3 linked regions of the Homo sapiens genome follow. The protein of the gene in region 2 interacts with the protein of the main gene of each other region in a pairwise test. Each region holds a gene or a part of one and is shown on either strand. Other genes may lie near its edges.

What was found.
Region 1: the proteins of LGALSL (region 2) and LHX2 interact in binary tests that used the Homo sapiens proteins (3 or more experiments, as listed by UniProt).
Region 3: the proteins of LGALSL (region 2) and MAD1L1 interact in binary tests that used the Homo sapiens proteins (3 or more experiments, as listed by UniProt).

What each region holds. Positions count from the first base shown.
Region 1 is NC_000009.12:124,014,629-124,021,767, reverse strand, and holds part of LHX2 (LIM/homeobox protein Lhx2), read right to left. Parts: intron 6,647-7,139; coding exon 6,243-6,646; intron 670-6,242; coding exon 464-669; intron 1-463. UniProt on the Homo sapiens protein: Acts as a transcriptional activator. Stimulates the promoter of the alpha-glycoprotein gene. Transcriptional regulatory protein involved in the control of cell differentiation in developing lymphoid and neural cell types.
Region 2 is NC_000002.12:64,449,414-64,457,184, forward strand, and holds the start of LGALSL (galectin-related protein), read left to right. Parts: upstream 1-4,748; 5' UTR 4,749-5,132; coding exon 5,133-5,168; exon of another isoform or gene 5,169-5,465; intron 5,466-5,930; coding exon 5,931-6,002; intron 6,003-6,175; coding exon 6,176-6,264; intron 6,265-6,874; coding exon 6,875-7,052; intron 7,053-7,771. UniProt on the Homo sapiens protein: Does not bind lactose, and may not bind carbohydrates.
Region 3 is NC_000007.14:1,935,842-1,942,980, reverse strand, and holds part of MAD1L1 (mitotic spindle assembly checkpoint protein MAD1), read left to right. Parts: intron 1-2,409; exon of another isoform or gene 2,410-2,893; intron 2,894-6,083; coding exon 6,084-6,294; intron 6,295-7,139. UniProt on the Homo sapiens protein: Component of the spindle-assembly checkpoint that prevents the onset of anaphase until all chromosomes are properly aligned at the metaphase plate.

The sequences.
Region 1 (7,139 bases), on a different chromosome or scaffold from region 2:
GAAACTAGAGTGGGTAAGAAGCAAGAAGCAGGAGCTAATGATAGTCACCTTGGGTGTACGTCCTGGGATGGGGTGGGGCGGCCTCTAGATTTATCTGAAATGTTTGAACCTTTTATGATGTGAATGTGTGTAAAATGAGTGTCACTTGAATAATAAACAGAAACTAAGAATTGTTTAGAAGAAAGAAAAGAGACCGAGTGTGGAGACAATGAGGATGGAGCGATACGCAAACAGAAAAACAGAGAGGCAAAAACTGAAAAAGAGAAAAGACAAAGTAAGAAAAAAAAGACTGAAATACAGATGGGGACAGGCTGGAGAGGTGAAGAAAGAGAATGAGAAAGATTAAACACACAGAGAAGCAGACACAGGGTGGAAGGTCCTTCCAAGGCCCACGGCGAGGGGTGCAGGGTTCCACCCCAGTCCCTGGTGGTCGCAGATGCCCTCACCCCTGGCCCTGGCTGACCTGGAGGACCCGCTTGGTGAGGCCCGTCTTTTGCGCGAGCTGCTTCAAGTCCTTGGCGTCGGGGTTGTGGTTAATGGCAAAGTAAGACTTCATGGTCCGAAGCTGGTGGTGCTTGAAGGACGTGCGCATGCGCTTGGTCTTCTGGCTGCTCGGGTATGGCTGGTCACGGTCCAGGTGCTCTGCGTCGTTTTCGTTGCAGCTTAGCGCTAGGGAGGAGACACAGAGCCGGTGGGTGAACTTCCTGACCCGCCCCCCATGCCAAATCCACACTCGCCCCACCCACTGCCAAACATTTCAATCCTTAACCCTGCTGCATGTCTGCGCCACAATGAAAGGGGGACATCATCCCCATTTTATAGATGGAAACACTGAGGCTCAGAGACAGCGATCCACCCAGGATCACACTGCTAAGAACTGCAGCACTGAATCCCGGCTCTGGGAGAATCCAAAAATCATTCTGAGCCATTATGTTACAATAAGAACAATAGTAGCAGCAGCAGCAGCAGCAGCAACAACAGCTACGACTTGTTGATGGCCGATTGAACTCCAGGTGATGTGTTAAAGGGCTTTCCAGGCACATTTTCTTTAGGTACTTAAAACAATCCTAGGAGCACCAGGTATTATTTTTCCCGTTTTTACAGATGTTGAAACTGAGGCTCAGCAAGGGAAGTCACTTGACTTTGGACACAGCAGGACAGGGTCTCTGGGCCTGCCCTCCTCCTGTTTTCCAAGGCACTCTAAGGAGGAGTGCTTTCTGCCGTCTCCCCCTACCGTGTCTGGGACCGGCACCTAGAAACTGCTGAAACAGAGATTCATGTTCATTTTGCCACACCCAAAAGTACTGAGGGACCCCTGGGCCTTGGGCACTGGGCCAAAGGTTGGAAACTGCATTTTGCAGTTTAATCCTCATCGCTACCCTGTAAGATGATTGTTTCTCCGTGAACAAGTGGAGCAAATTAGGCTCGGGGAAGTTCAGAGATCTGCGGCAGTCCACAGAGAGCGGCAGAGTGGACGGGGAAGGAAGTCCGAGGCAGAAATAAACATGTAGTAGACACCTATGGTGTGTGTTTGGCTTTACAAATGTCACTGTACATCATTACCTCTCAGAGAGGTGGCTATGACTATTCCCATTTTAGAGATGTGGAAACTAACGCTAAGGGAAATGAAGCCACTTGCACACTGCCACACCACCGGTAACCAGCTAGATTGATCTTGATCTGTTGAGCCTAGATTTAGCACTGGAGTACTCCTTGTTTTCTTCCACTACACCACGAAGGGAGGAGGGAGCCTGTCCCTAACCACAAGGAGCCTCATGGGGGCCACGCTGCCAATGCCTGGCTGGCATTGGGGGTGGGGAATATGGGTGAAAACCTGGGCCTCAGAAAATTGCTCAGCCACCTGGAAGCTGATGGGGACCTGCAGGACCCCTCCCAAGGTCGCCTCCTCATGGCACCTCCCGAGCCATGCCACACTTAAGGTCTTGCCTTGGGGTAAGCCTCATAAGGGGTGTACATTCGGTCCGCCTAAAGTGAGAACTGAGAAGGTATCTTGTGCCCTCATCACATACCCGTAACAGAGCTCTAGATTTAGCAAATGAAAATACAGGTTGCCCAGTTAAATATAAATTTCAGAAAAATAATAAGTAATTTTTTAGTATAAGCATGTCCTAAATATTGCATGGGACATACCTATACTAAAAATGTATTTGTTGTTTACCTGAAATTCAAATACTACAGGTGACACAGCTATGCTAAAAAATTGTCATTTATCTAAAATTCAAATATTACACGGGACACTTATACTACAAATTTCAAATTTATTCGTTATTTTTCCAAAATGCAAATATTGCCGGGGACACTTACACTAAAAATGTATTTGTTACGTACCCAAAATTCCAATTTAACTGGGGATGCTGCATTTTGCCTGGCCACACTACCTCCAAAGGACTTTTACTCTGCTGGTGACCTCCCCCTTCCCCTGCCCAGATGGGGAAGAGCCCCTTGCAGAGAGAATTTGCAAGATACAAGTCTTGCCCCTGCCTTTGGAGCTGTTAGCTAGGGGCTACACCTCCTAGGGGCCTCTTTCCACCGGCACTCAGGTCCCCTCACCCCCGGGGCTGCATTCCCACAGAGAGCACGCCCAGAGTGAAGAGCGCGGGTCCGGCAATTTAAAGGGGATCAGAGGATGCCTCTGAACCTGATCCACCAGAACTGCTTGGAACCCGCTGAGGTGAGCAACCCTTTTCTTTCCCCCAGTCCCCAGCTCCACTGGGGGTGGGGCAGCCTCCCTACGGGGTATCTTTGGGCCCATCCCTCCACCGAGCCCCCGCCTGGGCCTGGCTGCTGTTAATGAGCTCCGTGGGGACCCCGGCGCCCCCATGGGCCCAAGGGACCTGCCCTGAGTGCCGCCTAGGTGGGGTAGTAGTGCGGGGGAGGGGGACAGAAAGGGCAGAGAAAGGAGAGAAAAAGACAAACACAGAAAGGCAGAATGGAGGGAGAGAAAGAGAGAGGGGGTAGGGACGGAAGATGGACAGAGCCAGGAAAAAGAGAGGACAGACAGAGGAAAAGAAAGCGAAGGAGCCAGGAGAACCACAGAGAGACAGCTACAAAGACAGCAAGAAATAGGGAGAGCGGAGGGGAAAGCGAGTCCCGGAAACAGGCGCAGCTTGTGGCGAGGGTCCGGTGGCCGAGCTGAATCCCGGGGCTCCGGGAGACCCGGTCCCTGCGGGGGAGGCCTTTTCCGAAGCCGTTATTGGCGGGGGAGTAGAGAAAAGGGGAAAGAAGGGGAGTGGAGAAAAAGGGAAAGGAGCCGGCCCTAAGTAGCGAGGCCGAGGCCGGCCAGAGGCAAGGGCAGGGGGCGGCGGCGGGGGAGGCAGCCGTGGGGCCCAGGTTTGGCCGGCGCCCCGAACCCCCTCACTCCCGCCCCCAGTGCCCGGGGGCGGGTCGAGATTCCCCAGGATCGGATCCGGGGAGGAGCGAGGGGCCGAGGGGAGGGGGAGGACCCGGGCTTTCTCTCTCCTTTTTTTTTTTTTTCCTCTCAATTAGGCCGATTCAATGGAGCTAAAGAGCTCGTAAAATCATGAATAATTTACTCGTGATCTGTTATTAACCCATCGGGTTTCGAGCTCTTGTCGCTGGGACTGAACCTGTAATCAAATCTGACTTCGCCTCATTTTACTAAAGACGAGATTGTAGGTTCAATTGTCTAAATAATGGATTGGAATCAAATCAGTAATTACGCCGCCAGGCACACACACACAAAAAGCTGGGGCTGGGGGAGGCCGGGCGTCCGGCCGGTCCGCGCGGGACTCCCGCGGCCGCGGCGCGCAAACCCAGGCGCAAAGTGCGCGGCCCGGGCCCCTCGCCCGCTCCTGCCGCCGTTTTCGCACCCCCAGCCCGCTGGCAGCCCCTCCCGGGGTAGGGGGAGGTTTCCGTTCCACCGGGGCCCGGGCCCGAGGGGCTGCGGGAAGAGGCCGCTGCGGCCCCGCCCCGGAAGGACTTTCCGACCCCGCGGCCCGCGGCTCTGCTGTAAGCCCAGCGCCCGGCGCCCCGACGGCGCCCCCTCCCCACTCGGCCCCCAGCTCGCCGCCCTTCAGTAAGGTGCCGCCGCGCCTCGGAGGGACTGTCCCCAGAGCAAGAGGCTTTGCAAGGGGTCGTCGTGGCTGGGCCACAGGATGTGGGACACTGCCACAAACAAGCTCGTGTCCCCGTGGTCGGAACCCTGCACGCACACGCACACGACCCGCGCCCGCACACCCCGTCCGCGATCGCACCCTCCAGGGTCCCCGCTTTCCAGTCCTAGCTGCCCCGCGGCCCACACTGCGGCCATTTCTCTCCTGCCAGTGCGGGAGGGGAGGGAAGGGCGGACGCCAGATCTAGGAAGACTGGGCTGGGCCCCGAGAGGCCGGGGAGATGCCCTCTTTCCCCAACCTAGTCCCGGGAGCCCCGAAAGAGCCAGCCGCATAGCCACCGCCGGCGCACCGAACGCCGTTTCTCTCAGGACTAGGAGCCCCGGCCAAGGTCGGAGAGGAGGGCACGGGAACAAACACGACACACACAGAGACAGAGATAGAGAGAAAGGACGGAGAGAACGGAAAGGAAAAAAAGAGAGAGGGAGGCCAGAGAGAAAGTGAGATGGCTGAATGGAGGGTGTCTCTTGTAGAGGTTAAACAAGGCTTGAAATTCAGCCTCCAGCCCACCTCGCTGGGGCAAACGGCGGCTGAACAGCAAAAAGCAGAAATAAATCTCTGTACCTTCTACTCTCTTTTTGCACAATCCTAAAACCGGCGCCGAACCTCCGTGCCCAGGAAAACAATACAGCTCCCCAGCCACCAGGTGCCCTGGAGCCGAGCCCCGCGAGGTGCTTCCGAGTGGAAGTTGACCCACTTGATAAATAGAAGCGGCTTGGTGTTGGGGGAGCCGGTCTGAACTCGGTTTTGTCTTTTTTTGGGGGGTGGTAGGAGAGGAGGGATGGAAGTTCCAGAGAGCTACATCTGTGGTAGTGCCTTCAGCAAATCTTAAATCCGCGCCACCGACCGGCCTACCGCTGCTTCACCATTTACCAAACTGGGGGCTGCGTTTTCCTCCCAGTTCCGCACACAGGGACACACGCCCCATGATCCTCCAAGCGATTTCGTTGGAGCGAACACCCGCCCCTCATTTCCCTCTCTATTCAACTCAGATTCTTTAAGATGAAAATAACTGACTTCTTCCCGCCGTAGCACCCTCTGCACAGTCTTGGGTTTGTTTTTGTTTTTGCTTTTTTCTGCTTGTGCATTAGACTAAAGGGAAAAGGAAGAAGAACACAAAATCTCCAAATCTAATTCTGTTGCAAACGAAAGAAAGAAAATAATTGCACATAAACTCTAGTTCGGAAGCCCGGAGAGTCATAAACCTTTCCGGGCCTTGCAGACTTCGGGCAGATGTTGACGGCTCATTTGCCGGAACTCAGAACCTCTGCAGCTGTCCTGAGCAGGGAGGGGCGCGGGAGGGGGCAGAGCTTCTCCGGGAATGGCCTGGGGTTCAAAGATGCCGGAAATCCGAACCAAGCCCCCCACCTCACCCCACCCCACCCCACCCCGGCGCGAGGCCAGGCCTGCTCCGGTCTCGTCCCCGCCCGGGGGGCTCGCTTCCGAGGGTCACGGCCCTCACCCCAGCAGGCGCCAGGAAACTCGGAGGAAAAAGTCCGGGAAAACTGAGACCTGTCTTTAAAGGAGGATCGGGCCGAGCAAAAGGAACCGCAGCCTTTGCTTTCCTGAGTTCCCCAAGCCCGAGTTCCCCAAGCCTGCCGCCCTTGGGACATTTCACGAGGTCAGGCCGCACTCCAGGCCGAGCTCGGCGCCCCGGGCCACAGCCAGCCCTTTCTCTTGGGACCCTCGCCGCCCTGCCTCGTTCCTTCGCTGCCCCAGTTCCCGGCCCTCAGCCGCGCCAACCCAAAACCTGTTTGGCGTCAGCGCCGCCTTGCTTTCTCCATCCCTGCCACTTCCTGCCTAGCAAAGTGGGGCAAAGGCCCAAACCAAAAAGCCATCTCCAAAAAAACAATTTATCAGAGACAAGGCCCTGCACCCGGAGCAGCAAGGGACCACTGCACCCTCTCCTCCCGCTCCAGCCGAGGACGCACAGTCTGGAAGCCCAGGGGGCTAATGTCCCTTCTGCGAGGCCGTCCGGTGCTTAAGGCTCGCTATTTGCCCAGCACACAGAGATTCAATCCAGCTCCCGGCCGTCGAGGCCGCACACTTTCCCCCAACCCTATGGGGGCGCTTCGTGCGCCGCGCACTCACCAGCGTTGTAGGCCGCCAGATCCGCACCGGGGCCCGGGCTCTTACGTTTCCTCGGCCGCCCCTTCTGCACAGTGCCCACGCCATTGTAGTAGGGAAGACCCAGAGGGTTGGCCCCTGCTGCGCCCAGCCCCGCGCTCTTGGCCGCCGCGGCTGCAGCGGCCGCCGCTGCCACGTCGGCATGGTTGAAGTGTGCGGGGTACTCGCCCTGCAGCAGCGCCTCGAAGTGCAAGCGGCAGTAGACCAGGCTGTCCTTCATGCCGAAGTGGTCGCCCGTGGTCAGCATCTTGTTACACGTGGTGCACGTGAAGCAGTTGAGGTGATAAACCAAGTCCCGAGCGCGCATCACCATCTCCGAGGCCGAGATGCCCAGGTGGCAGCGGGCGCAGCGCTGCACAGAGAAGCGCCTGTAGGGACCATGGAGGGAGGGGCTGTGGGAACACACGGTTGGGTACCCCCCTTTTCCTCCTCCAGGTGCCGCTGCTGCTGCGGGGGGCAATCCCCTCCTCAAGACGAACAACCCGGCCTTTATTTGGAGGATGGGGGGGAGAGAGAACTAGATTTTGACCCAGGCCTGGTCCTGTCCTAAAATAGTTTCCCTTAACACACTTATGCCTACAGAGACTTCTACTTCACCCAGAGTCTCCGCAAGCCCTAGGAAAGCCTTTACCTGGGAGTGGAGGGAGACACTTACCACTTACCCCCTCCTCAACCTTTACTCCTCCCTCCAAACCAGCGCCTGGGAATCCTACTGACTTTTATAATTTGGAAGAAACACAGAGACAGGGAAAGAGAGAGAGACACAGACGTAGAGACAGAGACAGAGAGAATATACATAGACCCTAATCCTAAAACTGGGGAGAAGGAGAAACAGAGAACTTGGAGTCTACTAGTGATTCT
Region 2 (7,771 bases):
CTTGTAGGTTCCTTGGCTGGACTATGAATTAATTTGACATAAGACAGGTTAACAGGAGGAAAACATTTTAATTACATACATACACACGGGAGTCCCACACATTATGAGACTCCAAAGGGTCAGATGGTTGGAGCTCATATAGTATCCTGAGCTACAGAAAGGAATAGGGCTTAGGGCTTCAAGAGGATGGTGGCAACGTAAGTTGTGGGAGGGTGAAAGTACGAACGTATGGTGAATAAAGGTCATCTTGTTATGTAGATAAAGTCACCCAGAAAATAAAAGTTGTCTGGAGCAGCCCTCTTCATGATGCAGATACTGTATTAGATTTCCTTTATAGATATACATTTCTTTTACAAAAGGACAGCTTTTCCAGCTGCAGTTTCTTAGAATAATCAGCTCAAAATATGCCAAAGAAGTATATTTTGGGGTGCCATATTCTAGCCTCCTACAGTTACATTTTGGGGTAGTGTATCCTGAGCCTCAACTGGGGACAATTTGTGCCTTCCCTTCCAAGAGGGGCATTTGTCAATATCTAAAGACATTTTTGGTTGTCACACTAGGAGGGGGAAGTGCTATTTGCATCTAGTGCTCAACGTCTTCTAACACATCAGACAGCCCCCCACAAAAAAGGGTTTCCTAGCCTAAAATGTCACTACTGTGAGGAGAAACCCTGCTTTAGAAAATGTGTATATACACACCGATAGAAAATGAGTGGTCTGTAAGTTCAAGTTGGGCCTTGGGATCATGGCCCATAGGAGGCCTCAGATGGCAGGCATGGTGGAAGGGATGGAGGCACGTGCCTCTCTGGACCAAGGCACAGACGAAAGGCAGCCTCTGGGAGCAGGGGTTCAGTTCAGCTGGTTGCCACACCAGAGAGAAGAGTGGGATTAGAATTCAGGCCACAAACAGAGCTGCAGTGTGGTCTTCGAAGACTTGTTGTTGTAGTTCTGCAGCAGTTGCTGCTATGCATATGCTTAGGGATATGCCACCTCCTTCAGAAAGTGGCCTTAATCCTCCAAATGGGAGTGAATCTCCCCACATCAGTGCTCAGGCTGTGGGTCTGAGGCCTTTATTATCTTACCCACTAATACATCCTGCCATTATGTCCCAGAGTAGACGGTAAGTTTCCTGAGGATGAGACTCATGCATTTTCACCTATCTCCATAGTACCACGGCATGTAGCAATACTGATAAAATAGTTGCTGAATTGTCATCAATATTTATTCTTCCTCCCAATATTAGAAATTCCATGTGCATACATTTGAACAAAACATATAAAATGTTAAGGTAAAAAGGAAGTAATCTACTATTTTCTTCTGGAAAAATCATTTAGCAAAGCCCATCTTCAAAGATTTGTTTGTACTTTTTTTCAAAGCTAATAATCTGTTTGACTGCCTTCCCCACTTCTTTAACGTTTTTAGTAGTTTCCAGTGGTAACATGGTTCATCTTGAAATTTAACTACTGCATTTCATAAATGGGTCCCAATTTGGTTAATGTTTTTACACACAAATACCTATAATCAAAGCATGGAGCAAATTTTGCCTATTCTTTGCTATACAACTCAAAAAAGAATTTTTTAAGCTCTATAATTCATTAGTTTGCTAATGGCTTTTCCCCATAAGAGATAGTTTGACCCTGCTCAACTTTTAGTTACAGCAAAAAAACTCATTCAGGCTTTCTCTCTGCTCTTCATATTCAAAATAAACCATTCTATAGACTGAGAAGGAATCAAGCACTTTTGGAATAAAAGGCAATTTTCCATGATAAAACATTCTGAGCACGTTTAGTACCTTCCTATTCTTTACATTCCTAAAATGTAAGAAACTCATCTCCAGCAATCCAAATATCTTAAACTCCACTTACAAAACAAATCAAAGGGTTATTCTTCGCCCTACAAAAGCACTTATCAAAAGATTCAACCCAAGATTATTTTCATTCAGCAGCACCTACTCTCAAACCCATTTCAATTTAGATAGTATTTACACAGCTTTTCATGAACCAGAGCTTTCTAAGAGCTAAGAGGGAATGATGAATGAGTTCTGCCCCTTAATTCTGCAAGTGAGGAAACTGAGGCTCAGAAGACCATATGAACTCTCCAAGCTGCAGGATAACAGCTGGGACTTATCAAGGGCCCAGGGCTTCTCACATCTTCACCACTTCCACCATGTCAAGGCCACCATCACGTCTTGTTTGGAATGCTATAGGAATCTCCTAGGTCCCATTTTTACCCTCCCTCCTATCATCCACCCTCTCTCCAAAGGCCACTCCATACAGCAGCATGTGGATGAATCTACAATAGAAGGCAAACTATGTCCCTCCTTTGCTCAGAAACTTTTAATATCTTCCTATTTCCCCATGTAAAAGCCAATCCTCAACCACAGTGTAGAAGGGCTATCCATTTCTAGCTACACATCTCCTCAGTCACTGCCCCCAGCCCCAGTACTTGGGGACTTTGCCCTTGCAGTTCCCTGTGCCAGCAAACTCTTCCTCCAGATGTCCACATGACTCACCCCCCTCCTTCAGGGGTCTTCTCAAATGTCACTTTACCAGAGGTGGCTTCCCTGACCATCCTGTATAAATAGCATCACCCTACCTCCTATCTCTCTCTCTACTGGCTTTTTAATTATTTTTATTATTATTGAGACAGGTTCTCACTCTGTCACCCAAGCTGCAGTAGAGTGGTGAGATCACAGCTCACTGCAGCCTTGACCTCCTGGCTTCAAGTGATCCTCCCACCTCAGCCTCCCAAGTAGCTGGGACTACAGGTGCACACCACCACACCCAGCTAATTTTTTTTTTTATTTTTGTAGAGACAGAGTCTCTCTGTGTTGCCCAGGCCTGTCTCAAACTCTTGGCCTCAAGTGATCCTCTTGCCTCAGCCTCCTATATTGCTGGGATTATAGGCATGAGCCACCGCACCTGGCCTTATTACTTTTTCCTAACACTTTTGTCACCCGACATATTTTGTTTATTGATTTCCTTTGCCCACTAGAATGTAAGCTCAGCAAAAAAGTAGCCTGCTGGATCCCCAGTGCCTGGTATACAGCAGGCACTCAGTATTTTGGTATAATAAGTGCTTACTATGTCCCCAATACTGTTTTAAGGAAGGTATTTACTTAATCTTCCCAATAACCTGAGATAGGCATTATTATCATCATTGTCATCTCTGAGTCACAGATGAAGAAACTAAGGCACAGAGAAGTTTAGTAATTTTTCCAAGATCACACAGCTAGTGAATAGTAGAGCCAGGATTTGAACGCGAGACACCGGCTCTTTAACCACCATCACATGTAGTGTCACCCTTATTGTGTCACTCAGTTAATGATAAAGAACTACTGCACTTTAATGCTTCTTCTCTATACCAGACTCTCAGAAATTGATACATACTAAAGTATGCTTTCAAATGTCAATCATTTCCTATAAGTGCCTAACATTTTAAAGTAATAAAGTGTGATTTTGAGCTAAGACTGGTAAACAAAGTGTGCTGCAGCCACAAGCGTACTGCGCTTTAGCCTCTATCTAGTTCAAGAACCACTTCCAGAGGATATGAGTGAGGCTTACAGGCGTGTGCAGGTAATTCTCCCTGCTCAACTGAGATTACCATCATTAGCTCTGGTCCATAAAGGGAAAACTAAGACACAAAAGCCACATTGATGTTCTAGGCCACACAGCCAATTGCAGTGACTAGAAGAAAGAAGCCTCCCCGGGCGGCGAAGGTTGCAGTGAGCTGAGATCGCGCCACTGCACTCCAGCCTGGGCCACAGAGGGAGACTCCGTCTCAATTTAAAAAAAAAAAAAAAAAAAAAAAAAGGAGCCTCTGAGGGGCCCTCTGGGACTGCAGTAGGTCACACATGCTCCCTGCTTATTAGCATAGAACGCCCCGGTGATTCATGCAATGGAATGTTTCAGCCAAGGATGTCACCTAATAGAGGATATGTTGATACAGCTTTATCTGAGAAGTTACATAATCGTCCTAGTGTGGAAATGCCATAAAGGAATTTCTGGCTTGAATAAAAGAGGTGTGTATCCCCTGGGAAGTACTCCACAAAGGGTATGAGGAGATTTTCAGTGAGAAGCTGACTACCCCAGACTGGGCAAGTGACTTGTTAAAAACAGGGCTCAATGGAGGCTCTCTGAGGACAGTGACTGCGCCCACTTTGATTTGGTAAGGCTTTGACTCCTGCTCGAGAGAGTCCAGGGACCCCTAGACCTGCCTGTCCTTCCACAGGGAAGAGCGACCTTTCTGTATCTAGCCTCCTGGGATAGAAAGGTCCCTACCTTGAGTCCTCTCTGCTTCGTTCTTTCAGGTCACACATTTATTTCTGCAAGCCTTCAGACCTTCCATTCTCTTTCTGCCCTAGAGAGCAGAATGAATCCTTCCCCCGATTTTGTTGGAATTCTCTGAAAGAAATCCTGCCAAGTCTCCCACTCTGGAATACCACCCCCAGCACCCAATCTTCCCTCGACCTCGCCTCCCATCGCCCCACCAGCGCCCAGGACGTGGCAGGAGGAAGGAGGCTGGAGGGAGGGGCGCGGGTGGCACGAGCACCTGTCACCTGACCGGCTCGGGCCCTCACTTCTCCAGCCCCGGCCCTGCCCACCCTCTGGCCGGTGAGAGCCGACAGGGCCCCCGCCCTCCCGGACCCGGACAGGCCCGTCCCTCCCGCCCCGGCCTCCGCCACCGTCCAATGGCCGAGGGGCAGGGCCCGCTGAGCAAGCCGCGGCAGCCCCGCCGGGTCCCCGCCCTGTTCCCGGTTCCCGAGCCGGGCCCCGGAGGCCTTTAAATGCTGCCCAGGGCCGACGCGGCACGGCCCTCGCCACTTTTCTTGGTCGGGCAGCGGCAGCGGCAGCGGCAGCAAGCAGCCCCGTCGGCCCGGGTCCGGGGCCGTTCTGGGCCGCGGCAAGCACCTTCGCCCTCCCAGCTCGCGCTGCCTCCCTCCCCTCCCCTCCTCCCAGGCTCTGCCTGCCAGGTCGGCGCCGGGCCCCGGGCGCGCGCGCGCGCGCCCCCTCGTGTGTGCGCGCGCCCGCCGCCAGCTCGGACCCGCGCCCCCGCCCCCGCCCCGCGCAGGACAGCCCCGGGATCCCCGCCCGCGCGCCGCGTCCCACGTACCCCGCCGCGCCGGGCAAGAAGATGGCGGGATCAGTGGCCGACAGCGATGCCGTGGTGGTGAGTGTGGCAGGGCGCGCGCGAGGCGCCCCTCCCCGCCGTCCCGCACTCCGCCGCCGCCTGCTCCAGCAGTGCTGGGGTGCTGAGCAGCCGCAGGCCCGGCCGGCGCCCGGCGCGTGGGAAGGCGCCCGGTACCTGTTAGCAGCCGCTGGCTGCGCGCGGCCGGTGTTAGGGGCTGGAGAGGCTCCCGGGCTGCGGGGCTCTGGGCTGGGGAGGGAGTTTGGGGAGGATGGCGGGTAGGGACGCCCGACAGCCCCCTCTGTGCCGTGCAACCGCCAGCCAGGTGTGCGCGTGGGTGAGTGTGTCCGGGGCGCGCGCCCCGCCACCGCCCCCGACGTACCGGGGATTCCCCCTTGGAAATGGGTCGGCGCCCGGGGCTCCCGAGAGAAGTTGAGCACGGCCGCTGCACTTCAGTCACGTCCCGAAGGACAGGCCTGGCCCACCGCGCTTCCAGAAGCGTTTACGGTTGGAGAGGGGCCTGCCCTCCTCCGGCGTGGGGCTCTGGCTCTTCGGTGGACCTCGACCTTGATTTTGATCTGGATCTGAAGGGTCTGCGGATCTTCAGAGGCTTAACTACCGGGTGGAAAGGATGGGTTTTGTTCGGGGGTGATGAGATTATCTAAGAGACGGTGAAGAGGCATCATCTGCAGACACTGTGTGCATGTGGAAGGCTGCTGGATTCCACCACATCTGTGTGGGTTCTTCCTCCAGCCCCCCAAAAAAGAGCCCATGGAAAGCCAATCTGTGTACTTCTATTTTTAGAAACTAGATGATGGCCATTTAAACAACTCTTTGAGCTCTCCAGTTCAAGCGGACGTGTACTTCCCACGACTGGTAAATGATTTTGCTCTGTGTCTCTGCCTGTACCTTCCTCCTTTCTCATTGCTTTTTAAAATTTTATTCATTTGTTTATTGCATTTTCCAGTGGGTCAGGCCTTCAGGGTCTGAGGTCTTGGCTTTTCCCTAACAGGCTGTAAAATTCATTTTTCTTCTCCCACCCTTTTCAGATAGTTCCATTTTGTGGGCACATTAAAGGTGGCATGAGACCAGGCAAGAAGGTGTTAGTGATGGGCATCGTAGACCTCAACCCAGAGAGGTAAGGCAGAGTCTTTGTCAGGACAGAACTATCAGGCTGTGGCTGAGCCCTGCCCACTTCTGTTGTGGTTTAGCACTCCTCTTCCTCTCCTTGTGGACAGTGTTGCTAGTTGCCAGTGCCAAGAAAGTACCATGTTCCCATGAAACGAATATGTATGAATCCCAGCCATCATTTCTCCAGACAGCTATTTATATCAGAGATTATAAATATAGGCCCACATTTTCTCTTTGACCCTTAGGGAGGCCAGAGGATTTTTTTTTTTTTTTTTAATGGTTTTGAAACATGGTGCCAGGAGCAAGAACTATCAAGATGAATAAGAACCCAACTTAACATTATTTCCCCTGGTCAATTTCTGTGGCTGTTTTTGAGAATTCCGAAGTGGAATTCTCTAATTTTAGTCATTTTCAACACCAAAGTTTTCACCAGAGCTTGCTTTAGGTAACAAAATAAGCTGGTTTGACTTACTTCTCCATAATCTAACCTCTCTTGAAGAGTAGTGGCCTCTTAAAAATGGACAAACCCAGAGGAGGAAGAAGAAATATAAGCACTTGGGTCATTTTGAAATGTTTTTATATCCAACCCTTAATCAGTGGGATGATTTTCTTTTCAGCTTTGCAATCAGCTTGACCTGTGGGGACTCAGAAGACCCTCCTGCCGATGTGGCAATCGAACTCAAAGCTGTGTTCACAGATCGGCAGCTACTCAGAAATTCTTGTATATCTGGGGAGAGGGGTGAAGAACAGTCAGCAATCCCTTACTTTCCATTCATTCCAGACCAGCCATTCAGGGTGAGTACCTCGAGTGCCTCGGCTCCAGCCACTGGCAGGCTGATAATGTTCGACTTACCTAGTGTGTGCCAAGAACACTTGAAGCAGCCAGAATTTCTGCATGTCCAGGAAATTTGTCACCCAATGGTGAAAAAAAAAGATCAAAAGAGCTCTGTTTGCTGATATAAATTAACACTTGCCATAGTATCTTCTTAGTTCTATTCAGGTCATACATTTAAATAGACCCATATTTACATGTCCAAATTGTTAAGAATAAGTAACTTTTCTATGTAGTACCCAACATATAGTAGATACCTACCCCCAAATATCTGATTGATTAATCAATACTAAGTACCCACTTATTAAATATTAATATTAATAAGGTTGAGAGCTAATAAGTAGCTCTTTTATTTGTATGACATTTTAAAGAATATGATGATGATCATTTCATTTTCTCTTGTTCCCTTTGCTAATGAGGCCATGTTCGTGTCCTTGTTTCCCCCTCTGGATTAATTAGCCTCAGTCTATTTCATGGTTACAGGCTGTGTGGCTGACAAATTCCTTCCCTTGGGGCTGGATGAATAAAGATTTGCTCCCCACTATCTTCTGGGCAGGAAGCACAATCCAAACTTTTCATCCAATCAAGCAGCATTAGCAGCCCCTTCCTCTATGAAAGGCAATGCCAAATAAGAGATGCAGGTAGTGGCACAGTGGCTTGTGCCTATAATCCCACCACTTTG
Region 3 (7,139 bases), on a different chromosome or scaffold from region 2:
AACGTGTGGTTGGTTCCTGGACTCTCCACTGTGTTGTTGGTCTGTACGTCGGTCCTCATGCCCACACCACACCATCCTGATTGCAGTGGCTTTGTAGTAAGTTTTGAAATCAGGAGACTGAGTCTTCCTCCCGTGTTCCCCCTTTGCAAGCCTGTGGTGGCTCTTCTGAGCCCCTGCAGTTCCGTGTGAGTTTCAGAATCAGCTTATCAGTTCTTCAGGGAGGCCGGCTGAGTCCTGGGATTGTACAGAATGTGCAGATCAGCCCTGGGAGTCTCTGGTCCCGACAGCGCCGGGTCTTCTGATCCGAGACATGGGATGTTTCCTAATCACCTAGATCCCGCCTAGTTTCCTCCCATGCTGTTTTGCTGCCTGTGTGTTTGAAATGGCTCCTCTTGGTGGGGTGGGTGCAGGAGTGGTGCTGTTTGTATAGGACATAGGGCCGTCCTCCCATCCCGACACTCGGCTGCCCTGGAGACGGGCCTCAGCACAGGGCTCCCATTACCCCTGCACTTCCAGCACCTGCTGAAATGTGTGGCGCGCGGGCTCCGAGGCATGGAATGGTGTGCCTGACTCTGCGCTGCCCAGGCTGTGGTCACAGCAGCAGGCTGGAAGTTTGGCTGTCGCCCCCAGCCACCTTGGGGCACGGTCCTGTCTCACCTGGAGCAGAGGTCCTGGGCCCCCAGGGGCTCAGGCGTGGCCTCCTTCTGGAGGGGCCGGGAATGTCCCCTCCACTTGCTGAGTGTTGGCCCAGGAGGCTCCTCTGTGGGATGCCAGCTGCTCCCACCATGAGTGGCAGCTCCACCCCTGTATTCACAGCTGTGCTGAGGGCATCCAGGGCCTGGAAATCATGTCAGATGGACAGACAGGTGTGCGGGTGGATGGACTAAGGGAAGAAAGGAAGGATGGCAGGAACGAACGCGTGGAGGTCAAGAGCCTGGCCCAGAATCACGGTGGGGACGTGAGCGGGTGGGTGGTGCCCAGTCTGCCCCTCCCGTGCTGCCTCTAGGGGCTCTGCCTTCTCCAGGCGTTAGGCAGGGAAAGTCCCCTGAACTTACAGAAAGACGACTAGGTGCCTGGAATGTTGCCATCTGCACAGAGCCCTAGCGCCTGTCCTCCCACTTCCCTCGCCCTCCTGGGAGGTGGGTTCTCCACGCCACCAGTTATGGAGCCCAGGCTTGTTCTCAGCCCTGGTCAGCGGTGCCATCGCAGGTCGCTCCAGCCCCAGCCGCAGGTGCCCAGTGAATGCTCTCCGTGACCCAGGGCCTCCTGCTGCAGGTGGAAGCCGGGCCACGGGAACCTGCGCCGACCTTGGCCTCACACTGTGGCTCCGGGAGAGCAGGACCTGGTGGTGCATGCGTAGCGGCTGAGGAGGACAAGCCTGGGGGCTGGTCCCAGCCCGGACACGGTGGCTTTGCACACACCAAGCCTTCGCCCCCAGCGGGGCCAGCAGTGCAGGGCGCTGCACTGTTGGGGGCCAGAGGGTGACAGGATTGGTGTTTAAGAAGAACTTCTCAGTTTTATCTTTTCTCTGTTTTGATTTGGTTTCCTTCATCTCTACTGGCTTGGGCTTTTGGTCCTTAAATCCTCTAATATACAGAATTGTTTCCTGGACCTCAAGCCCCCCATCAGGGGGGAAACCTCATCCCAGGATGATGGGCCGGTCGTGGGGCACCCTGGCTGGGGGCTGGGGGCTGGGGCTGTGCCTCTGGCTCTCGTTCCTGCCCGTGGAACGTTGAACGTTGCCAGGACATCCACCCCGGGGAACTTGACGTCCTCAGGCACTGCTGGGTCCAACGCCAGCGCTGGGCGCACCACCGCTGACCCCCGACCCCTCCTGCAAGTCCCCCTATCTGCTAAGTAGGAGGATGCTGGGGCCAGGCGAGGCCTTGCTGGGCAGCCTCTAGGATGGTCACTACCTCCTCCCACCTGGAGGTCCCTTCAGGAGGTCCGCGGTGTTGAAGCCTGGGGAGGAAGAGGAGGCTGAGGCCTGGGAGAGGAAGAGGAGGGTGAGGCCTGCGGGGGGAGGAAGAGGAGGGTGAGGCCTGGGGGAGGAGGGTCTCACTGCTCTGGGTCAGAGGAGGGCTGAGTACACGCTGTGCGGCCTGGTTCTTGCCAGGGGTCAGCTGACTACAGCCCCGCCTTCTGTGCAGCCCCTCAACTAAGAACCGTTGTACATTTTTGAAGGGTTGAAGAAAATCAAAAGAAGAATATTTTGGGACACACGCGGGTTATCTGAAATTCAGATTCGTGTTTCCGTGCCCGCAGCTCCGTCAGCGGGGCCCATGCTGGCCTTGTGTGCCCTGCGGCTTTCTGGGTGCAGTTGCAGCGCTACGTGGTTAGGACGGGGGCAGGGTGACTGCACAGCCCCGTGACTGGCTGCTCTCCGCAGGAGGCGGCCCCACCCTCTGCCCACATCCTCCCTGGCTCCTCGAGGCTCCGTAGGATGGTGAAGAGGTTGAGATGCTGTCCAGCCCACAGAGGCCCCGGAAAGCCAGTGCCGCCCGTCAGAGGGGTCTCCTGAGTGCGTGTGGGTGGCTGGATTCTGCATACTGGGTTATCTTAACCCCGGCTGTGAAAACTGGATGAAGTAGCAATCCTTTCAACCCCAAGAGTCTGTGATTCAGCCAGAGTTACAAGATGTCTCTTCATCCTCTGAGGTTTACAAGGTTCTCAGAAAACCTGTGAAGAGCTGCGCGGATCCTCTCCTGCCCCGGCCCAGCGGCAGGGCTGCCGCCTCCCTCTCCCCTGGGCCTGAGTGGGTGGATTTCCCCTCCCCTCCTCCTTCCCAGGAGAAGCACAGAGGGAGCGGCCAAGCGAGCCGTGTCTGCAAACCCCGCTTCCCTCTGCGGCGGCCTCTGCCATCGTGCCATGGGGCCGGAGGTCCCTGGTCCAGGTCAGCATGTCCATCTCCACTGGCCTCTTCCATGAGGGGGGTGGCAGGGCCAGCAGTTAGCTTGTGTGACGTGACGTCAGGGGGATGTCTTAGAGTCCGGGGTGGCACCAGGAGGGGTGAGGTCTCTTCCCTTCTTCCCCATCCTCTCCTCTCTCCCTGTTGGAGGCACATTCTGGGCTCTGGGACCACGATTGCCCATGGCTGATGAGCTCCAGCCCAAGTGAGGTCCCCAGGGTACAGCCCAAGCCAGGCCTCGCCGTCCTTCGGGGACTTGGAGAGCAGTGGCCCACAGCAGCCTGAGCTCTTGGGAGGCTGGAGGCTTACTGCGCCCGGTCTCTTCACCCCGTGGGGTGTGTCCACACCGGCCTCTCCTGAGAGCGTGGGGTGATCTGAACACAGGATGTGTTTCCCTGTTCCCCTCTGGGAGATAGGAGAGTGCGTGGGCAGAAGCCCCAAGGGTGGCAGGAACTCATTGCCAAAGGGGAGGAGGCCATTGCTATGCGTGGTGCTGGCCTGGCTTGCTGGGTCATGTCTGTGCCTGACATGACCCATGTCATGACCATGGTCATGTCTGTGCCTGACATGACCCATGTCATGACCATGGTCATGTCTGTGCCTGAGGGACCGGGTGCCCATCCAGTCTCACTGCCCCACAGCTCACAGCCACAAGCTGCAGAATCTCAGCACTTGGCGGGAGCCCTGGCCCGTGTGTGTGCGTGTGTGTGCGCCGCTGGCTCCAGCCCTGGCCTGTGTGTGTGTGTATGTGTGTGTGTATGTGTGTGCGTGCACCGCTGGCCCCGGCCCTGGCCCATGTGTGCGCGCGCCTCTGGTCCCGGCCCTGGCCCGTGTGTGTGTGCCTCTGGCCCTGGCCCGTGTGTGTGTGTGTGTGTGTGAGCGCCTCTGGTCCTGGCCCTGGCCCGTATGTGTGTGTGCGCCTCTGGTCCCGGCCCTGGCCCGTGTGTGTGTGCGCGCCTCTGGCCCTGGCCCGTGTGTGTGTGCGCGCCTCTGGTCCCGGCTCTGGCCCGTGTGTGTGTGTGTGTGCCTCTGGCCCCAGCCCTGGCCCATGTGTGTGTGTGTGTGTGTGTGTGCGTGTGTGTGCGCCTCTGGTCCCGGCCCTGGCCCGTGTGTGTGCGCCTCTGGTCCCGGTCCTGGCCTGTATGTGTGTGTGTGTGTGTGTGTGTGTGCGCGCCTCTGGCCCCGGCCCTGGACTGTGTCCGTGTGTGTGTGTGTGTGTGTGTGTGTGTGTGCCTCTGGCCCCGGCCCTGGCCCGTGTGTGTGTGTGCGCCTCTGGTCCCAGTCCTGGTCTCTGTGTGCGTGCGTGTGTGTGTGTGTGTGTGTGTGCGTGCGCGCCTCTGGCCCCAGCCCTGGCCCATGTGTGTGCACCTTTTCATATGTTTATCAGCTTTTTGGGTGTCTTTTTGGGAAGTGTCTGCTCACATGTTTTGCAGATTTTTAGAGTGGGTTGTCTGACATGCCCTTGGTTATTTCTGACATGCCCTTGGTTATTTCTGACATGCCCTTGGTTATTTCTGACTTCTTCGTATGTTCTGGATCTGAACCCTTTCTCAGAAATGTGATTTTCAAACAGCACCTCCTGCTCTGTGGGTGCCTTTCCACTGTTTCAGTGGATGAAGTTCTTAATTTCTATAAGGTCAGTTGTACTCTTTTTTTTTTCTTTTACGGCCAGCACTTCCTGAACCCTGTTTGAGTAACCTGTGTCTACTCCCAGGAGACAGAATGTGGTGGAATTGATGTTTGTGTGTGATGTGAGGTCGGGGTCTCAGGTGTGCAGTGACCCTGCACCTCCCTGCCGTGGGCGGCTGTTGTTTGTGTGTGGCGTGAGGTCGGGGTCTCGGGTGCGCAGTAACCCTGCAGCTCCCTGCCGTGGGCGGCTGATGTTTGTGTGTGGCGTGAGGTCGGGGTCTCGGGTGCGCAGTGACCCTGCACCTCCCTGCCGTGGGCGGCTGATGTTTGTGTGTGGCGTGAGGTCGGGGTCTCGGGTGCGCAGTGACCCTGCACCTCCCTGCCGTGGGCGGCTGATGTTTGTGTGTGGCGTGAGGTCGGGGTCTCGGGTGCGCAGTGACCCTGCACCTCCCTGCTGTGGGCGGCTGATGTTTGTGTGTGGCGTGAGGTCGGGGTCTCGGGTGCGCAGTGACCCTGCACCTCCCTGCTGTGGGCGGCTGATGTTTGTGTGTGGCGTGAGGTCGGGGTCTCGGGTGCGCAGTGACCCTGCACCTCCCTGCTGTGGGCGGCTGATGTTTGTGTGTGGCGTGAGGTCGGGGTCTCGGGTGCGCAGTGACCCTGCACCTCCCTGCTGTGGGCGGCTGATGTTTGTGTGTGGCGTGAGGTCGGGGTCTCGGGTGCGCAGTGACCCTGCACCTCCCTGCTGTGGGCGGCTGATGTTTGTGTGTGGCGTGAGGTCGGGGTCTCGGGTGCGCAGTGACCCTGCACCTCCCTGCTGGGGGCGGCTGTCCCCTGCTGTGGGCGGCTGTTCCCTGCTGTGGGCGGCTGTCCCCTGCTGTGGGGGGCTGTCCCTGCTGCAGGGCTGCATGGTGCTTGTTGCTGGGGGTCGGTCACCCACCACAGGTCAGCAGGCTGGGCCTCCAGGCGCACTCCTCCCTCAAGGATGCCACACACATCCCGGCCCTGGGTTTCGTGGGAACATCAGGTTGCGAGGCGCATTCCTGAGCCACCCACGCTGATGCCAGGCTCCCTTGCCTTCCATCTCTGTGTGGTTGACCTTGTTTCTCTTGTGGCACGGGGCACCTTCCAGGCTGGTAGGGAAGAGATGGGAACATGGCCACACGGGCTCCCAGTCTCATCCCAGCCAGGAACCTCAGAGGAGAGGAAGCCTCCCTCCCGGGCACTGAGTGTGGAATTCTGGGAAGCACCGCACTTGGCTGAGCAAAGGCCGCATGTCCCCTCTCACCCTGTTCCTGTGGTTAGGCAGAAGGGACCCAGCAGGTGGCCAGGCCTTGTTCCTGCACCTGTCCACAGGGCACAGGGAAGGAGCCACTCCTTCCAGGAGAGATGGCTGCCAGGCAGGCTCAAGAAGACAAAAGAACTGAGCACTGTGCTGTGTGTGACCCGTGCTGTGTGTCTTCCTGGGCCATGGTGACCCATGCTGTGTGTGACCCGTGCTGCGTGTGTGCCTGGGCCATGGTGACCTGTGCTGTGTGTGTTCCTGCAGGGTGACTATGACCAGAGCAGGACCAAAGTGCTGCACATGAGCCTGAACCCCACCAGTGTGGCCAGGCAGCGCCTGCGCGAGGACCACAGCCAGCTGCAGGCGGAGTGCGAGCGACTGCGCGGGCTCCTGCGCGCCATGGAGAGAGGAGGCACCGTCCCAGCCGACCTTGAGGCTGCCGCCGCGAGTCTGCCATCGTCCAAGGAGGTGGCAGGTAGGCACCCCCCACCCCCGGTCCCTGCCATCCTCGACCTTCCGTGGGTAGGTCCATCCGTGCGCCTTTGGGGCAGCCTCAGGCGCCCCTGCCTGTCATCCCCAGAGGGTTTGTCCTCCCCTGTGGGCAGCCGGGTCTGGTGGTTGCTGGGGCAGAGCACCCTGGCCCCGTGTCCCCATGGCCCCGTGGGGTTGTGCAAACAGGTGGAGCCATCCGAGTCTGCAGGCAGCTGTGGAGAAGCAAGGGGCTGAAATTTCAGGCCCTTAAACTAATTCGTATCATTTGTCAGTTTATATGTACCCCATTAATCACAAGTAAATCCAGTCCTCCACGAAAACAAGTCCATCTCTCACCAGCTTAAGTGTGCTTCATGGCGTCCAGAGAGCCCTTTGAGGCCAAGGCCTGTGGCGTCCCAGGGAAGAATGAGGCCTCCATGAGGGCCAGCAGGGCCTGCCCACACCCTCCAGGTCTACATGAGGCCCACGGCCTTTGGAACGCCAGCCTATCCCCTGATGTGGGGAGGTGGTGCTGGGGTCTGCCCACGCCAAGCCTCGGAGGGTGCTGCCGGGGCTGTGTCGACTCTGCAGGGTGCCCCTGAAGGAGCAGGGCTGGGAGTCCAGAGTCACTGTGCAGTCTGCACCCCCAGCGAGGCTGTGGGGCTCAGGAGACCCCTGCCCCCTGTGTTGCTCTCTGCTGTTGGAGGGAGCTGGGCACTGCCCCACGCTCCTGGTTCTGGGGGGACCTGGGGGAGGGTTCCCTGTCCAGCCCTTAGCAGCAGCCTGGAGCGTGGCCCGGCGTCCCCTTGCTCCTGTGTTAGAGCCACCCGGCTGCCAGCCCCCTCCCTT